Regions from separate parts of the Homo sapiens genome. Here region 1 is linked to region 2. The links come from fine-mapping of genetic effects on gene expression. Tissue or cell type: aorta. Region 2 holds a variant in brackets; the other region holds the start of a gene. All regions are shown on one strand. Distances are between the middles of the regions.

What was found. PIP is the estimated chance that this variant, and not a neighbour inherited with it, causes the effect.
Region 1: RNF32 starts here. The variant in region 2 is fine-mapped to the expression of RNF32 in aorta (GTEx, PIP above 0.99). The same link has a PIP of 0.9 or more in adrenal gland, atrial appendage, breast, cerebellar hemisphere, cerebellum and esophagus mucosa.

What each region holds. Positions count from the first base shown.
Region 1 is chr7:156,636,344-156,644,528 of GRCh38, reverse strand. It overlaps RNF32 (ring finger protein 32), which reads right to left and starts at 3,755. Exons shown (of 9, transcript NM_030936.4): 1 at 3,718-3,755; 2 at 637-728; 3 at 1-30. The coding sequence starts at 651. It overlaps RNF32-DT (RNF32 divergent transcript), which reads left to right and starts at 3,994. Exons shown (of 4, transcript NR_026865.2): 1 at 3,994-5,581. RefSeq lists a silencer at 3,855-4,164 and an enhancer at 3,733-4,324.
Region 2 is chr7:156,675,952-156,684,136 of GRCh38, reverse strand. RNF32 (ring finger protein 32) reads right to left here. Exons shown (of 9, transcript NM_030936.4): 9 at 7,007-7,718. The coding sequence ends at 7,482. LMBR1 (limb development membrane protein 1) reads left to right here. Exons shown (of 17, transcript NM_022458.4): 17 at 1-6,346. The coding sequence ends at 59. Among named protein-coding and RNA genes, the nearest start is that of RNF32-AS1, 20 kb to the right of the region's middle. The variant G/A (reference allele first, on the strand shown) is at 4,867.

The sequences.
Region 1 (8,185 bases), 40 kb after region 2:
TGCCAAGTTATCTTTCTTAGATGAGTGACCCTAAAAAGTAGGAAAAAAGTCATATTTAGAGGAGTATTATGTAATATATCATTTAGAAGAGAACTGAGGCTTCAATACTCAACCTTGATGGCACATACAACCAAATCAAATAGTAAGGAATGCTTGACTCATTGTTACCTAAGTAGGAGCAGACCCTTGTCTCAGCATTTATGTTAACAATACAGGAATATCTTTTCATTTAATTATGAAAGCCTTAATTATAATATGAATAAATTCATTATGACCCATAAACCTGTGCATGCCTAAACAAACCCACGCTGCTTCACTATAATTAAATTAGACTCCAGGCAACTACTAAGGAGACTCCTGCCATTTCAGCTTATGCCTTTTTGTGAAAACTTAATAATTTCCTGTGCAGAATAAAAATCACCAAACAGCTAAGAGATGCTTGCAGTAAATATCGCCAGAGATTGTTTTTCCATTGGCTTGTCCACTGCCCCATGCGACACTTGGCATCGCCCATTCCTGCTGACAATTCCTAGTTCAAGCAGGGTTTGCAAACTAGTTTTTATACTCTCAAATGGCTGAATTAAAATACATTTCATGAGTCAAATAACGTGTATGTTTAAGAAAAGAATAGCGTACCTTATTTTTTAACATGCCGAATTAGGAAAAGTTGTTGCTTGGCTATCACAAATTCTATCATCACATCCTATCACCTTCCTTCTATTCTTCTGCTGCAAAGACGTGGTCAACAGAAAGTCAAAGTTACAGTGCACAGAAAAACCATGAAGTTTGTGAGGATGCTCTGTAAGAGTCTAACAGATCCTGAAGCAGCAGGAATGCCTGCTACAGGGTGGCACTAAGCTACACATTCTGGTTCTGGAGGAAGGGGGTGAACTCAAGTCAGTTATGCTTCGACTCATCCCTGTCCTCAAATAGTTCACCCCTGAGCTCCTGAGGACACATTAATACAAATGGTTAATTACTATGAATTAATCCATTGCTAAATATAACATGATACATAAGTACTACAAAACTTCAGGCTAACACTGGAGACTTGGAAAAACCAGTTAAACTGGCATTTGAAAGATACACAGAGGGAAATGAAGATGGCACATTACAGGTAGGAGGAAAGAACTGGCAGGCTGGAAATCAGCATGATATGCTTATTTTGGGGAGAAAGGGAACAATGAAGAAACTGGAACGCAAGAGGAACACTGGCTAACTTCAGTCTGTCCAGAACACAGAAGTACAGAATATGGGGACAGACCAACTTGAGTTCCAATTGAACTCTACCGCTTTGCTGCGCAAGATACTGGACACAGCTGAGCCCCAGGCTCCTCATCTATAAAGCAGGTATAATAACGCTGGCTTTGCAGGGTTGCCGCAAGGATTAATGAGACAACCTTTGAAGTATCTAAAGTAGGTCTTTTCACACAGAACTTACTCTTGTTATTCTTGCTTCAATTCCCTTCAAAGCTGGTGGAATAATTTGGAATTGGCCCTTTTAGATTTTGGACATGGTGTATTTTATGAAGACAGATGTATTCAAAATATACTGTGATGAGGAGAAATAGAAAGTTATTCAAGTAATCTAGGAACTGGCACAGAAGGCCCTTGAACATATTTCTTCTAATGTTGTTTCCCTATAACGCTGATGAGAAAAAAAATTGATCCCCAGCAGGGGCCACTGTCTGTTTGGAGTTTGCACGTCCTCCCCATGTGCTGTGGGTTTCCTCCAGGTACCCCGGGTTCCTCCCACATCCCAAAGCTGTGCACGTGAGGCTCACTGGGGCGTCCCCGTCTGAGTGAGTGTGAGTGTGCCCTGCCATGGGATGCCGTCCTCTCCAGGACTGTTGCCCGCCTTGGTCCTGAGCTGCCTGGATGGGCTCAGCCCCCTGCCACCCTGAACTGGAATAAGCAGGTTGGAAAATGAAAGGATACAAATTATTGTCAAATAAAAACTCGTAAAGCATACGGTATTCACACAGAGATGCAGGACAATACCCGATGCAGTAAGAAAGGCCCAGCGGGCTGAGAAGTGGCTCCTGTTTGTTTTGAAACTGCATGGTAGGGGGAGGTGCTTCAGAGCTTTGGCTTGGCCAACATTATCTTTAACACAGCCCCTCCACAACCCGGTCACTCATGGATTCACCAGAAATTGGGTAATGATATTTCTTAAATGTAGAGCTCATATGTACTTCAGTGTTTCATATTAGAAGTGCTTTGGTCTTTATTTAGAAGTTTGGCGATGTTTTTGTGACCAGGAATGTGCTGTGGGAACTTTCCTCTTATTTATATCAATTAACCTATGGTGAAACTGGTTTCCTTGTACACTGCATGGCTTAAAGCTCCAGTTTCTAAGAACCTATGGATGATGTTAAGTGAAGACTTACTGTGTTGAGGGCCTAACTCTAAAAATAGAAAGAAATTAATCCAAAATGTATTTCTAAGGACTAACACTTGTATTAAATTACTCCAACCGAAAGAACAAACTCACTAAGGCGTGAGTGGAGAGATAGAAAAGCACAGTGGAACCAAATCTCTGAGATATCCAGGGTTAGAAGTAAAAACGTCAGTCGCTGCTCAAGTCCTGGAGGCTTTGATGATGGTTCTTACTACAGCCCTTTTCTGTTCCCGTTCAATTCTGGCATCAAGAGATGTTTGAAATAAGTTCCACCCTGTATCTCATCAAGACAACTGAACTTGGAGAAATGGTGGAATTTAAAATACTGAAAGATCACTGCCAGAATTTTCTCAGTTCCTGCTTCCAAAATGCCTATAACCTGCAGAAGATACAGTTTGCATCACACTAAAAATGGTCCGGTCATAGCTGCAGTCTGCAATTTAATCTCAAGTTTCTACACAGTAGACCACTGTCATTAATATCAAGGTAAGAGCTTTTAAAACCTATACTCTCTTAAAGTCCTACGGTATCATTAAGTTTTAGAGTTTAAAATTCAGAATTTAAAGGTATTGAAAACCCTTCAAGTACCTACTCCAACTCCACTTTATAAATGAGAAAACCAAATACCAGGTGAGTCCTTCAATATATAATGAGCCTGCGGCACTGGTAGGGTTAGAAACGTAACCCTTGCCCAGTATTGAAAGCTAAGATTAACAGGAACCCGTTGCTTTGTAAATCCCAGTATTAAACGCTCAAGAGGCAGAGCTTGGTGGCAAAAACGATCACTGGGGTGCCAAAGCGAGTAACCTCAGCTAATTAAACACGCTCAATAAAAATACACGAGACCAAGCCTACGACGTAAAGATGCAATCCTACGTAGGGTCTTGGTGTTATCTCCTGCCTTCTGAACCCCGCTGACCGTTTTCTGAGGTTCCACTCATGCAGGAAGCGCGCGGTGACGAGGCTCCAATTCCTCTCAAAGCTGACACCACCCTGCACCTGGGGCCCCTGATGGCAGCCGGTCCTACCGGGTTCTAAAATTACCGACGTGGGATCACTGTTCTAAGGCTTTAGGCAGCCGTAAATTCGTACCCCTCAGATAGAAGGAGCTGTGGAAACTAACCAGGACCCCGAGTCCCCCAAGGAGGCTGCGCGCCGCTACGGGACCCGACCTCGCCTCACAGCTGCGGCCATCGCCGGCCCGGCTCGGAGGAGGCGAAAGCGAGGCCGCGGACGGCCCTCACCCCGAATCCATGGACCCCGCCCGCCTGGCGGGCCACCCTTCTTTCCGTCCCTCCCCCGAAGCCTCTCCGTGCCTCGACTCCTCCGCGAACACCGGAACCCAGGGACGTCTGCCCCTTTTCCCTCAGGCAACTCCCTGGCCGCCCACCGTTGCCGTAGCAACGCCCGCCTCCGCGCTCGCTCCCCGCGGGCTTGCTCACCAGCCCTGCCCCGCCCCGCCCCATACTGCGCATGCTCGCCAGCCCCGCCCGGCCCACATTGCGCATGCTTGCCAACCACGCCCTGTCCACACCACACTGCGCATGCTCGCCGGCCCCCGCCCCGCGCACGGCGTCAGCGTCTAGACGCAGGTGCGTTCCCGTCGAGGCTCGCGCAGCGGGCGTTTTTGGGGATCGCCTGGCGGGGGTGTTCGGGAGCCGCGGGCTGAAGCACGGGGGCGTGCAGGCGCCCAGGCCTCGTGTAGTGAGGGCCGAGCCCCGCGCCGGCTTCGCTGTAGTCCGCAGCCCCCGGCGGCTTTGTGGGCGCAGCCACGCTCCTCAGCCGCCCGCCCACCTGGGCCTGGGCCCCGGTTGTTTCCCTGCGGTGGCTGTGGTCGTTCCCGTTCCAGGGTCTCGAGCGCACCGCCCCTTCGCTGCGCTGTTAGTCGAGGGCAGTTTTCTGGGGGATCCCCCGATCCCCCCGCGCCGCTCAGGCGTCTTGGCTCGCGGAAGCGCAGGCGCCGACTGCCTGGCGTCGTCCGTGACTCCTGGCCCTTCTCTGTGGATCCCTTTGCTTCTCGTTGCGGGTTGTGTTTCCTGCTTCGTGGGCCTGGCCGTTTGCGTTTGGATGCAGGCCCGGGTGAGCCCTGCGTGGCCCGCTGGCCTTTTCCTGCTCCCTAGGTGACTGAGCCGCGTGTGTGACACATCGGAGTGAATTGAGGCAACGCGTTCCTTTCCAGGCTTGCAGCGGGCGGTGTCGTTCACGCTCCTGAGCAGAGCCTTCCGGTGCTTTACTCGACGCCACAAATAGTGCAGGGTTCCTCCCAGGGGCTGTCGCGAGCTAGAACTCTTCCCCGCCCCTGTGAGCTCGGGCTGTTCTTCCTCCTCCGCGTGGCTCACTCCAGCCTCGGATGTTTCCTCGCTGCACAGACCTGCTCGGGAAGACTCGAGAAGGCCACCCCAGGACTCCAGCTCTCCCCGGAAGGGCTTCCCCTCGGATTGCGTCTTGGCCCCTGGAACCCTCCCTCTGTATCCTCTGCTGTTCCTCTCTTGGCCTCCATTTGGGTTGTGGCCTGGATACTCTGGCTCGCTGCTTCCCTTCTCTTAAGGATCACAGCCCTGCACTGCCTGTCGTCCGGTGCCTGGAAACCATTGTATTTTTTGGTCTGATTTTGTAGTTGTTTGAGAACTTAAGTCTGGTCCCTCACACTCCATGCCCAGAAGCAGAAATGAGTAAAGTTTGTTTTATCTTTTCTTAATATGACAATTATTGTGTTGGTTCAACTTATGTTGTACTTTAATTAGAAGAAATTTGGCCGAAAATACAAGGAAAATATACAAATGCAAGTAATTTTTTTTAAACTTCCCTGAAAGCAGGGTCTAAAGAAATTACCAACCAACTTAGACTGGATCTAGAAGAAAAGGAAGGGTCTTTGCAGTCTTAGGACTCTTCCGTTCCGCGACGTAGGTGTTAGGATAACAGCCATAAATGGTTGTAAGACTTTGGGCTCAGATAAGTAGACTTAAGTTCAAATTTTGACTTATTTTACAAGTGTGTGATTTTTGGCAAGCTCATCTTCCTAAACCATGAGCTCCTTATTTGTAAAGGGGACATTAGCCACTCTCCAGCAACAGCCCTGGTACTTCTTCAGTCCTGGGATGGGACGTATGATTAGCCTAAGCGAACCAGAAAATCCAGGCCCGTGACCAGTGACTTGATCAGGGCTGGCGATATATCTAGGTAGGCCAACCAGGTGGACTCAGTATTTTTGTGGGTGCTACTGGAAAATTTATTTAATTCTAACTGAATGTAGAAACAGCAACAGACATGAAATGGCAGTTGTATTGCTGTCTTATCATGAGGTGAGGGCCTGAAGCTATGGTAGCCACCCTGTGAACCTTGGAAGGAGGGTTCTACAGGAACTGGCAGAGCTGAGACTGGGACGCAACCCATGTCCTGGTGACGTATTTGAGTCCTGAGGCTGGCCCTCCTGTTAGTCTTTTCTCTTACTGGCTTCAGCCAGATGGGGTCTGGTTTTCTGTTACTTGCAACAGGAAAAATTGGAATGATATCTATGCATGCTATTACCGCCTTATGGCTGTGGTGAGATTAAAACATGATACTGTGGGTGAACTGCTTAGTACAGTGCCTGCTATTCTTTATGTTGGTTTTAAGGTATTTTTCTTGAACTTTAAAGTTCTAAGAAAAATTACCGTTTTAAAATTCCTACCCTCTGTTCACATGTTTAAATTTTCATGATAGTTTTTCTGTCTGCATGTTTTCTATTCAAAATAAATTGGTCATTCTTCAGTTAGCCACGAAGAATATTGTGAATTTTTTATTTTTAAATTTATTTTTTATTGATACATATTAGATGAACATGTTTTTGGATAACGTGATAATTCGATAAATTCATAAAATCAAATCAGGGTAATTGGGATATCCATCCCCTTAAATATTTATCTTCTATTTACACTAGGAACATTCAAATTATTCTAGCTATTTTGAAATGTGCAATCGATTTGTGTTAAGTATAGGCTTGACTGAAAATTTAACCTTATTGCTTTCTAATTCTTGACAAAAACAAAGCTAACATAGTTGATATTTGAAGAATACATTCATTCTTCAAGATAGTGTGTTCTGTTGAAATGAGTTAGATGATCAGAATGCAACATTCTTGGATAGGGATAATTAAAAATATAGTCAACCTATCTTGTCCCCAAAACCATGTTATCAATGATTTGTATTTTAACATTATGCCTTTTGTTTTAAAAAAGTTTTTTTGTTTTTTTGAGATGGGCCTGAGAAACTGCATGTATACAAAGCATGTTTACATCTTCAGAAAACTGCTATTGAGTACATTCTCCATGGTGCTGTTCAGTGCCATTTGTGTAAGCACCCACATGATTGTTTTAGAATTTCAAAACCACTAATTGAATGTCCTAGGAATAGTGGAGACGGAAGAGAAAATTAGAGGTGCATGATGTTAAGGATGTTGAGGTGCTTAGTCACAAGGAGAAGGGCACCAGTGTACTTGGCTGATTAAGATGCACTTCTGTACTCCACTGTGCTTAAGAAGAAAGCTGCGGGTGGTACTCTAAGAGATCTGTTGTATAAACATTATCACAAAAAGAGTGATGATACCTGTGCTTATCCAAGGAAGAGCAGCCCAAGATGGATGGCAATAGCGGACTATTTAAGTGGAAGACATTGATATGAAGGGAAAATCTTATATTTTGCTTGTGTAGAGCGCAATTCACAGAAAGTGTTCAAATACTAGAATAGGCAGTTGGAGTCCAGCTTGTGGAAGATGGGGTTTTCTTCATGATGACACTAGAGATCATGATATTGGATACTAGTGCTGGCCCTGTATTTTTATTTATTTATTTATTTATTTATTTATTTATTTATTTATTTATTTATTTTGAGACAGAGTCTCTGTTGCCCAGGCTGGAATGCAGTGGCGCCATCTCGGCTCACTGCAACTTCTGCCTCCCAGGATCAAGTAATTCTCCTGTCTTAGCCTCCCGAATAGCTGGGATTACAGGTGCCCGTCACCACGCTTAGCTAATTTTTGTATTTTTTAGTAGAGTCGGGGTTTCGCTATGTTGGCCAGGCTGGTCTTGAACTTCTGACCTCAGGTGATCCGCCTGCCTCGGCCTCCCAAAGTGCTGGGATTACAGGCGTGAACCACCGTGCCTGGCCTATGGATTCTTAATGTATCATACCCATAATATTTGAATTTGCCCACCTGCCTAGTCTCTAAACACTGCACTAATGAAAGCCTAGGCAGGGTCAGAATGGTTCTTAGTTCAATATCCTTCTCACATTTTAGTATCTTAATGCTCTCACATTTCTCCTTTGTTATGTACAAAATATTCTCAAAGCCTACTCAGTGCCTATTTGACTCTTGTCTCTCTTAACACAGTCCTTGACATCTAAAACAAACCTAAGGAGCAGAAATTGGTGGCATGGGGTTCATCTTTAATTTAGTTCTCAATTTTAACCTTCACCAAAACCATCTCTCCATTTATTTTTCTTAATCTTCTGTATTACCTTTAACTTTCTACTCACACTTGTATATTTATTTATTTATTTATTTTTTCTTTCTTTATTATTATTCTTTAAGTTTTAGGGTACATGTGCACAATGTGCAGGTTAGTTACATATGTATACATGTGCCATGCTGGTGCGCTGCACCCACTAACACGTCATCTGGCATGAGGTATATCTCCCAATGCTATCCCTCCTCCCACACTTGTATATTTATTATCAATTTCTATTCCTAACTTGCTGATGTGGTTTGGCTGTGTCCCCACACAAATCTCACCTTGAATTGTAGTA
Region 2 (8,185 bases):
CTTCAAGGGATTCAGAAACAGCCAAGCCTTCTGTAAATGGGCATCAGAAAGCACTGTGAGACGCACAGACGGCGTCTTCTGCCACCAAGAGACCCGAGAACTCCAGATTCACGACATTCCTGTCCCATGTAGAAGCATTTCCATTCAACCGTGGCCCCTCTTCAGAACCTAGACCTATCAGTGCCATTTTTTTTTCATAATCTACGAAGAACTTGGCTATGGCTGATCTTTTTTAAATTTAACTTTCTGATGGACCCTGTAGTTTCCAGTTAAGTGCAGATTCCTTACAGACATATAGAACAGCGCATTCTTCTGTAGACATTTGCTCATGTTGGTAAATACAATCACCCATATGAAAAAATTGTTTTCACCTGATATGAAAATGTTAGAAAAGGCAAACTCCGGGACTTCTAAAGATTTACTTAAATCCCATTATGTACTTTATTCAGAATGTAGAAGCTGACTTGAAAGGCATCCTTGGTACTAAGTGAAGCTTATTCAGAAAATGCATTTTTCAAATGCAATGGCAACTGCTTGTAGATATCATTTTTGCAGTGTATGTTGGAGCTGTAATGGTTGCAATTATGTTTCTTATTTCCTTAAAAGCAAAAAGCGTAGTTTCTGATTTATGTTATAGAATGATACTGATTAGACTTTGAGCCAAGGGGAAAATACTAAATTCTTTTAAACCTGGAGCCTTAGAGAGCCACAGGAATATCTTCTGTTGTACAGTCTAATAAGCTGTGGTAGGAAGTATCATGTAATCACAGTTTAATGACAGTTTATGTATATATATAATTCAGTATTCCCTCTGATAACATAGTTGCCAGTGTTTAATACACTTGTAACTTGGATTTTTACCTTATAGGCTATATGTATACTCAGTTTTTTAAAGCATTTTTTTCAGAGATCACTTAATTCCCCATGCTTCTGCAATGCATATAAAAACTATAAATGCCGAGTGGTAGAAACTCCTCTTTCTTCATAGTCCTCAGGCTTTGGTTACATTTGCATATGCCATTTGAAGCCTCCAGCTTTTACCAGTTTAACATCCAAAGTTCACAGCATCAGCATTCATGGTGTAAGAACAGTTTTGCAGTATAACACGATCTGATAATCATTCAGTTATTAAATTGTAAATAATTATTGGGATGGTTTCTTGGCTTTAAGTCCACTGAATAAAAACTATGAAATTGCACTCTGTGTCAACCATCCACTAGGATAGAATACCGAAATCTGTGCATGCAAAAATAGGAGATGGGCCCATTTGCACACAATTCGTAGTTATGCAGTCTGCTATATAAATATGTTCACATGCACTGTGTGTATGAAAATAGATGGTCTGTGTTCAGACAAAAGTAAAACATTTTTTTCAAATTGTTACATTTAAAGGTTTTCTGGGAGAAATTTATGAAACGCAGGCTGTGTCTATTTGACATCAGAAATTTCCACTTTAAACCAAAATAATAAGAAACTTTAATCTGTATATTTACAACCTTTGTTGAGTACACTTCCCCCTTATTTATACGTCTGCATTTCCTTCCGAGCTTCACATCTTTCTAAAATGCAGCTTGGTTTTAAAATAAAAGAACATTCATTTTGTGATTCTAAACAAGCTTCAGTAAATACCACCAGTATAGTACTGGTGAATTTCTCAGCATAAAATCGACATACCTAAAAAGTTAATAAAATTCAGCTCTTTTCCAATTTCATTGTTATGCCTATTGAAGTATTAATTGCCAGGTTTGATTTTTAGTGAAGCTTGGAGTCCATACTTTGAGCAGACCAAGTGAAGGGAAGAACAGAAAGAAACTCAGGAGTAGAGTAATATCACTTCTCACTTACACCACTTTCAGGCACATCCAAAGAGTTCCTAGATACTTGGAAAATGTCTGAAAATTTTTAAGTAAAATACTAAACTTTTCAGTGTTTAGCTCAACTTTTTGTTCATTTGGAAGTTTCTCTCCATCCGAGGACTTAAGCCAGTTTTGGATTTGTAAGCCCTGAGTACAATACACTTCCTGGAGGCATCCTCACTGCTGTTGAAGCAAAGGATATGCATGGGGTGGAAGGACGGCTTCGAACCTGGGACTCATATGCCTTGAGAACAAATAGATTGTTACAGCCTTGGGCTGCTGCGTAATCACGGTTCCTCGAGGCTCTTCCTGAGCACATGCCCAAGCATCTGCCTCTGGAGAGACTGACTCCAAATGCAGGTGCTTCCATTGGAGCTAGGTCGGAGGCTGCTTTATATGACGAACTCCAGAAATGGATGCCAGAATACGGAGGCCAAACGTTCTGAGTCCTGGTAAGGACAGTCGCTCTGGGGGTCCTCATTTTACTGCAGTTCCTGCACGCCAGTGAAAGAGAGGAGATAGACCCTGGAAGGCAGAGCTGCAGATGCTCATCATCAGGTCAATTCTGGAGCTACAGTTTTGTTTCTGACTGGATAGGGATGCACCAGTGACTGTCACATCAAGCAGTCCTTTTATTCTCTCTCCTTTAGTATCGATTTTAAAGGGCATTAGGCACTATGGTTCCAGAGTTTCTTGGGGAAAACTTGCAGATTCTTATTAATTGGTTCTGCAATACTTAAATAAATTATTTTACAATTATAAGTTTTCAGATTATAACATTTGTATTAATTTTTACTGATTTTCCAAGATACTTCTTAGATTTACTATTTACGTAGCTTTATGTACATTCTCTGTAAAAATAGACCTCTAAATATGAGGCTTTACATGAAATTTGTACACACATACACACTAATGTTAGCTCCTTAAATTGCTGCACTAAGGTGCTGGTTAGTAGAGATGGACGGAGCCTCTCGCGTTTTGCTCTCAGATGTGTTAAAGGCGCACGTGTACCTGCTCTCAGCGGCAGTGCGGCCTCCCCATCTGCTGGGTGCCCATGGCCCTCCCTGCAGCCTCAGTGATGACCTCGTCTGCCAGGGACACAGGTTTTCATCATTTACAGGCTCTTATGTGCTAGTTTTGTTGGTAGCACGTTATTTAATGCATAAAGGCAGAATTCTTACAAGTTTTTTTTTTTAATGTGAACATAGATGCAGCACCGACTTTTTAAACTTGAAAAAACTGGTATAATGTTAACTTTTAAAAATAACATTTGGACACACTAGTAATTGATTTTTGTTTACAGATTGTTTTGTTTACAAATTGTTAGTCTTTGTTTCTATGAGATACTTTTAGTGTGACTTTTTAAATGTCTTAGAAATTAAAAGTTGTACAAAAAGTGATTTCATATTTGGTTTATAAGCATTTATATGTGGGGTTTATTTGTTCTTTTGTTTTTTCCATCTTAAATATTATCATGGCTAAAACTTAAGGGTATTTATAGTTTAATTCCATTTCAGTTTTATAGAGGGCAGTAATTATTCTGATGAATGTTGAATTAAGAAATGGATATTTTCTTTCTCTGTTGTGCAGTTATTGGTAGATCAATTTCTTATAACCCACAATGTAGCATCAATAATTGATAGCATGTATTTTATTTAATTACTTGAATTATTTAGACTTGATTTCTCTAATTTTTTCCATAAAAGGACTGAACAGCACCTACTTGTGGTCTGGACAGCTTAACCCAGAGTTCCTGGAAGAATAAATGCTGTTAGCATCTGGTTAATTTACTGGCAGACAGAAGCCTACTTACAGTGGCTTTCAACTTTTTGACCACAGTAAGAAATAACCCATTACACACACACACACACACACACTCTCTCTCTCTCTCTCTCTCTCTCTCTGTCTCTCAGATACGTATAAGCAAAAATTTAACAAGACAGTACTTGTTTTTCCTAAGTGTGCATGCTGGCATCTTCTGTTTTATTATTTTTAAAAATACTAGACACAGACACTAAGTTACTTTGTGGCCTCCTAATAGATGGCAGACTTCAGTTTGAAAAGCATCCCTTTGGAATGTGGTTTAAAAGAAGAAATAATACAAAGACCTTTTTGGAGTTTTTTTTTTTTTTGGTTTTTGAATATTGTTTAGGTAAAAATTATTGCTGCAAACACAACTGAAGCAAAAGTACTGTGTACGCAAATTACTTGTTGCACTGTAGAAAATGTAATATCAGGAGAAGTTCCTAAAACTCACAAATATATACAAAATTTCAAAACTTGGTGATTGATCCATATGTCTTGAAGGAATATTAGGCAATAAACTTACCTTTTCAAGAGAAGTTATTTAACTTCCAATTCTGTGTTCTTTAATTAGGAAAAAATTTTTTCAAGGTTAACTATAATCAAATAGGAACTTCACACAAAACCTCATTATTCTTGGATATGGATTTGGTGTTCTGCTGTTACTTCTAAAGGTGGTACAGAAGTCAAGTTTATGAGCCTGGATTATGAACAGCAGGGCGGCCCTGATGTGAGTGGTTGTGGAGGACTAGAGTGATGTAGAAGAATCTGTTGTGTCTGAGTGTGAGGAGGTGGAGAGTCACGTGTGGGCTATGGGTCTGAGAACTGAAGTTTTAACAGTTACTAAAACTGTTTTGTGGCTGTTGTAATGTCTTCTCCTTTCCTTTCCTTTGAAAAGCTGTTACTGAATGAACGATGCCGCTTACAAACACTGACACTTCAGAACCAAGCATATTTGATACTGCTGTAGCTATTTATATTGATTCTGCAACTTCTCTTTAACAGCATCTTGAAGTCATCCACAGTTGTTCTATATGGACTCCACAGTAGAGTCAGAGAACTAAGTGACAAGTGGAGCATCGTCCTCCTCCTGCTCACTTCCTCCTCGCCACCTCTCTGGCCTGGCTATCCTTCAGTCTGAAGAGTGATTCACTTTTTCTTTTCTTTTTAGTCTTTACTGTGGAATCTCATCAAAGACTTGGAAGCA[G/A]GGGTGGTGAGAGGGGCCTGGGGCGTGGTGTGGAGGGTCGAGTTCTTTGTCGTCCCACAGTCACCCCCAGGACCACCTTGCGAAGCCGAAAATACACATCTGCATTTTACCGACAAGGAACGCCACTGAGAAAGCTGCAGACATTTGCCTGGGGTCACGCTTACAGTGGGCAGATGAACTGGATGTAAATACAGGCCAGTACAACCGCAGTCTCATTTTTTCTTTGTTTTAGGTTTTCAGTTTCTTGTTCATTCATGTACCTTACAGTTCTATTATCTGGTTGATAAAGATTCATGACAGGTATCCTCATTCTAGATTATAACCTTTATTCTTATCAAATGCCTCCAGTCCCACAATTCGCTAAGAATTCTCTTTCTGGACTTGATAGTGATTTAATGATTCCCCCCGCCCATGGAATGGTAGGCTCCTAATTAAGTGGATTTAAAGGCAAAAAGGGATGTGTGAGAAGGCACAAGAAGTGGCTTCATCTTGCAAGGTGACTGTCAGACAAGTGGGTTCCAACCTGTTAAAATAAGGGAGGAATGGCCACATCCCGTAGGGACTGCTGTAGCTGACCAGGAAGACACAATGAGGGCAGCAGACAGGGCTCTCCCTGTCCGCTGAGTCCTCCCATGAACTCATGTTTCCAAAGGCCCCACTCTTTCTTGGTCAGTGTCCCAGTTTTTATAGAAGAGACCTGATGAGGCTGTGGAGTAATTGTATAAAAGCTTGCACTGTTTTCCTGACTTGACCTGACAATGTGGCGTTATCTTCAAATTGTCCAGAGAAGTAGCTACTTCATTCAGGTCCTTTTTAGCGTTCTGTGGTTGCAACTTGGTCTCGCAAGCTTTCGATGGGCGCGCCATTCCATGGCCACTTTTCAGTAAGAAAATTGCCTGATTTTCTGTTAACTGTCACAGGCTGCCCTGGACCATTCCTCAGAACTCATGGGATTTTCGCGACCCTCATCCTCAGTGAAGTTAGATGACCATTCCTGCCTTTCATCCCACCGATTTTCCTAAGTATCTGTTGCCTGCAACTAACACTAGTTCCTGTGTCAGTAAAGTACTGCACTTGGTTGCAAAGAATAGAGATGGACTCTGCCAACATAGGCACGGAAGGTTTACGGGGTGGATGGCATGGCTCACAGATGTGATGAGAAAGCCCCGGAAGAAGTGTTGGGCACAGCCTTAGGCACAACCTTTCCTGGGCTCTTCCCATCACTGAATGATCCATGTATCTCCGGGACTCTCCTTCTAGATCCAAAGTTTAGGGCGGCGGAATCGGACTGCTCTGGCCTTTGACACGTGCCTGTGCTTTGCCTGTCAACGCTATGGGGAGAGAGATGTCAGCTTACAGAAAATTGAGGTTCTGTGATTCAGTTTCCCTCTGCTCTCTTAGAATAAAAGTGCTTACTCATTGTTTAAAGCATTCTCCAAATTAGTCTGCAAATTTTTTGATAGTATACATCCTTAAAAAATGAGCACATCCCAATATATGCATATTTATTCATAAATGATACATACATATGTAGCTATATAATGTGTACATCACAAAACATAGGAGAGTATTTTTTCTAAGGGATGAGATAAGAATAAATAGAAATTTTGGCATTTCTTCTCACATTAGATGCTGGGTTATTCTGAGCCCATGCCATGTGCACACCCACTTGGCCTCTTCCTCTTAGGCCTACACCCTGCCCTTTCCTTGCCCCTTGTAGTTACTGTGGCTGGAGTGATGAGCGCCACTCCCAAGCATGGCCTGGAACAATGTCCTCCTGCCCCTCCACCAGCAGTGACAGGATTCACTGGGGACTCGGGGGCAAAGGAGACTGTGTCACAAGACAAAAGGAGCCAGGGTCACACATGGTGTACCCTCGCCCTGCCTCACCCATGGCTGACATGGGTTGGACACCTCAGAAATCATGTGTCTTCAGCGAGCCACTGAGAGTTGGGGCTTTATCTGTTACTCGGCTAGGGGTAACCTAACCGATGAGACTGTAACTGGTTACTGTAAATAACCAAGCTCCCAGTAATAGTAAACCAGTGACAAAAACAATTCTTATCCAAAAAGGTTCACTTTTTTTTAAAATGTGTGAACTAAAACAGTCTTTATTGCTCTAAGACATTAAAATTTGCACTTTTTTGATGTTGAATACCACTGAATATTTTATTTTTATATTTTATTACACAGAAATACAGCAATTATTACAAAACGAGTATTAGGAATGGCAAAGGCTTTAGGACAGACTATTAGCGGAAAACATTTGGAACTTAAGGAGTGTTTTACATTTGGAACTTACTTTAAGGAGTGTCGTTCAGACACTAGCTATATCTTAACCTCAATTTTTAGAAGTAAGCAAGCTCTCATTTTTTGCTATTCATATTTGAAGTGATTAAACTCATAAATTTGAAATTTACTTTTTAGAGACCAAAGATTAAAATTAGGTGGGATGTCAGCTTTTAAAATATACTAAGATTTCCTACAACTACCAATAGCTTATTTCCCTGGGAAACAGATTACATTGTAGTACTTAACCCAGAACTCATGCAGTTCATCCAAAATGATGGTAAACTTTTTTCCTCAGAATTACCTAACTTTCCTTGACTATGAATTCAACATTCAAGAATCTTCTTCTGGTAGCAGGAGCGGCAGAGAGGACAGGCATGGAAAGGAGGCCTGTCTCCCACGGAGAACTCCTCTAGTGCCAGCAGACACGCATGGTGGAACACATGTGAGCAGGACAGGAGGGCCATCTCTCTGGAACGCCTGCCTGCACCCACGCGCTGACCGCCAGCAGCGGAGAGAGGGGCCAGGCAGATGGAGCACTCGTGGGTCTCCCGGCGCAGAGCCTGCGGCACACAGGACGGGAAGAGGCCACGCGGGTTAGTTTCATCACAGCAGAAAGTTACTTAAACTGAAATGCGAACCATGTGCCCCGAGACATGGGTCTTCGAAACATGCGGAAGTTTCATTCTGTGTTAAAATCACATGCATTTTATTTATATATATACATATATATATACACACACATATACTCTGTTACTCCTGGGAACTGTGGAAAGGGTTAGTAACCCACCTGTGATAAGCAACATCCAACAGGAACTTCCAGAATTTCAAACTGAAGGGACCTTTGCCGTCACCCTAAAGCCCATGAGGAAAGTCCTACCACAGGTGCAGGGGCAGCTAGGGCAGCGGTTACCCCGGGACTGACACTCCTAGGCTTCCCAAAGTGAGTCCTCGACCTCCCCCGACATGCCACCCCCACAGCCTCCACGGCTGCACCCCGGGCCTGACACTCCTAGGCTCCCCAAAGTGA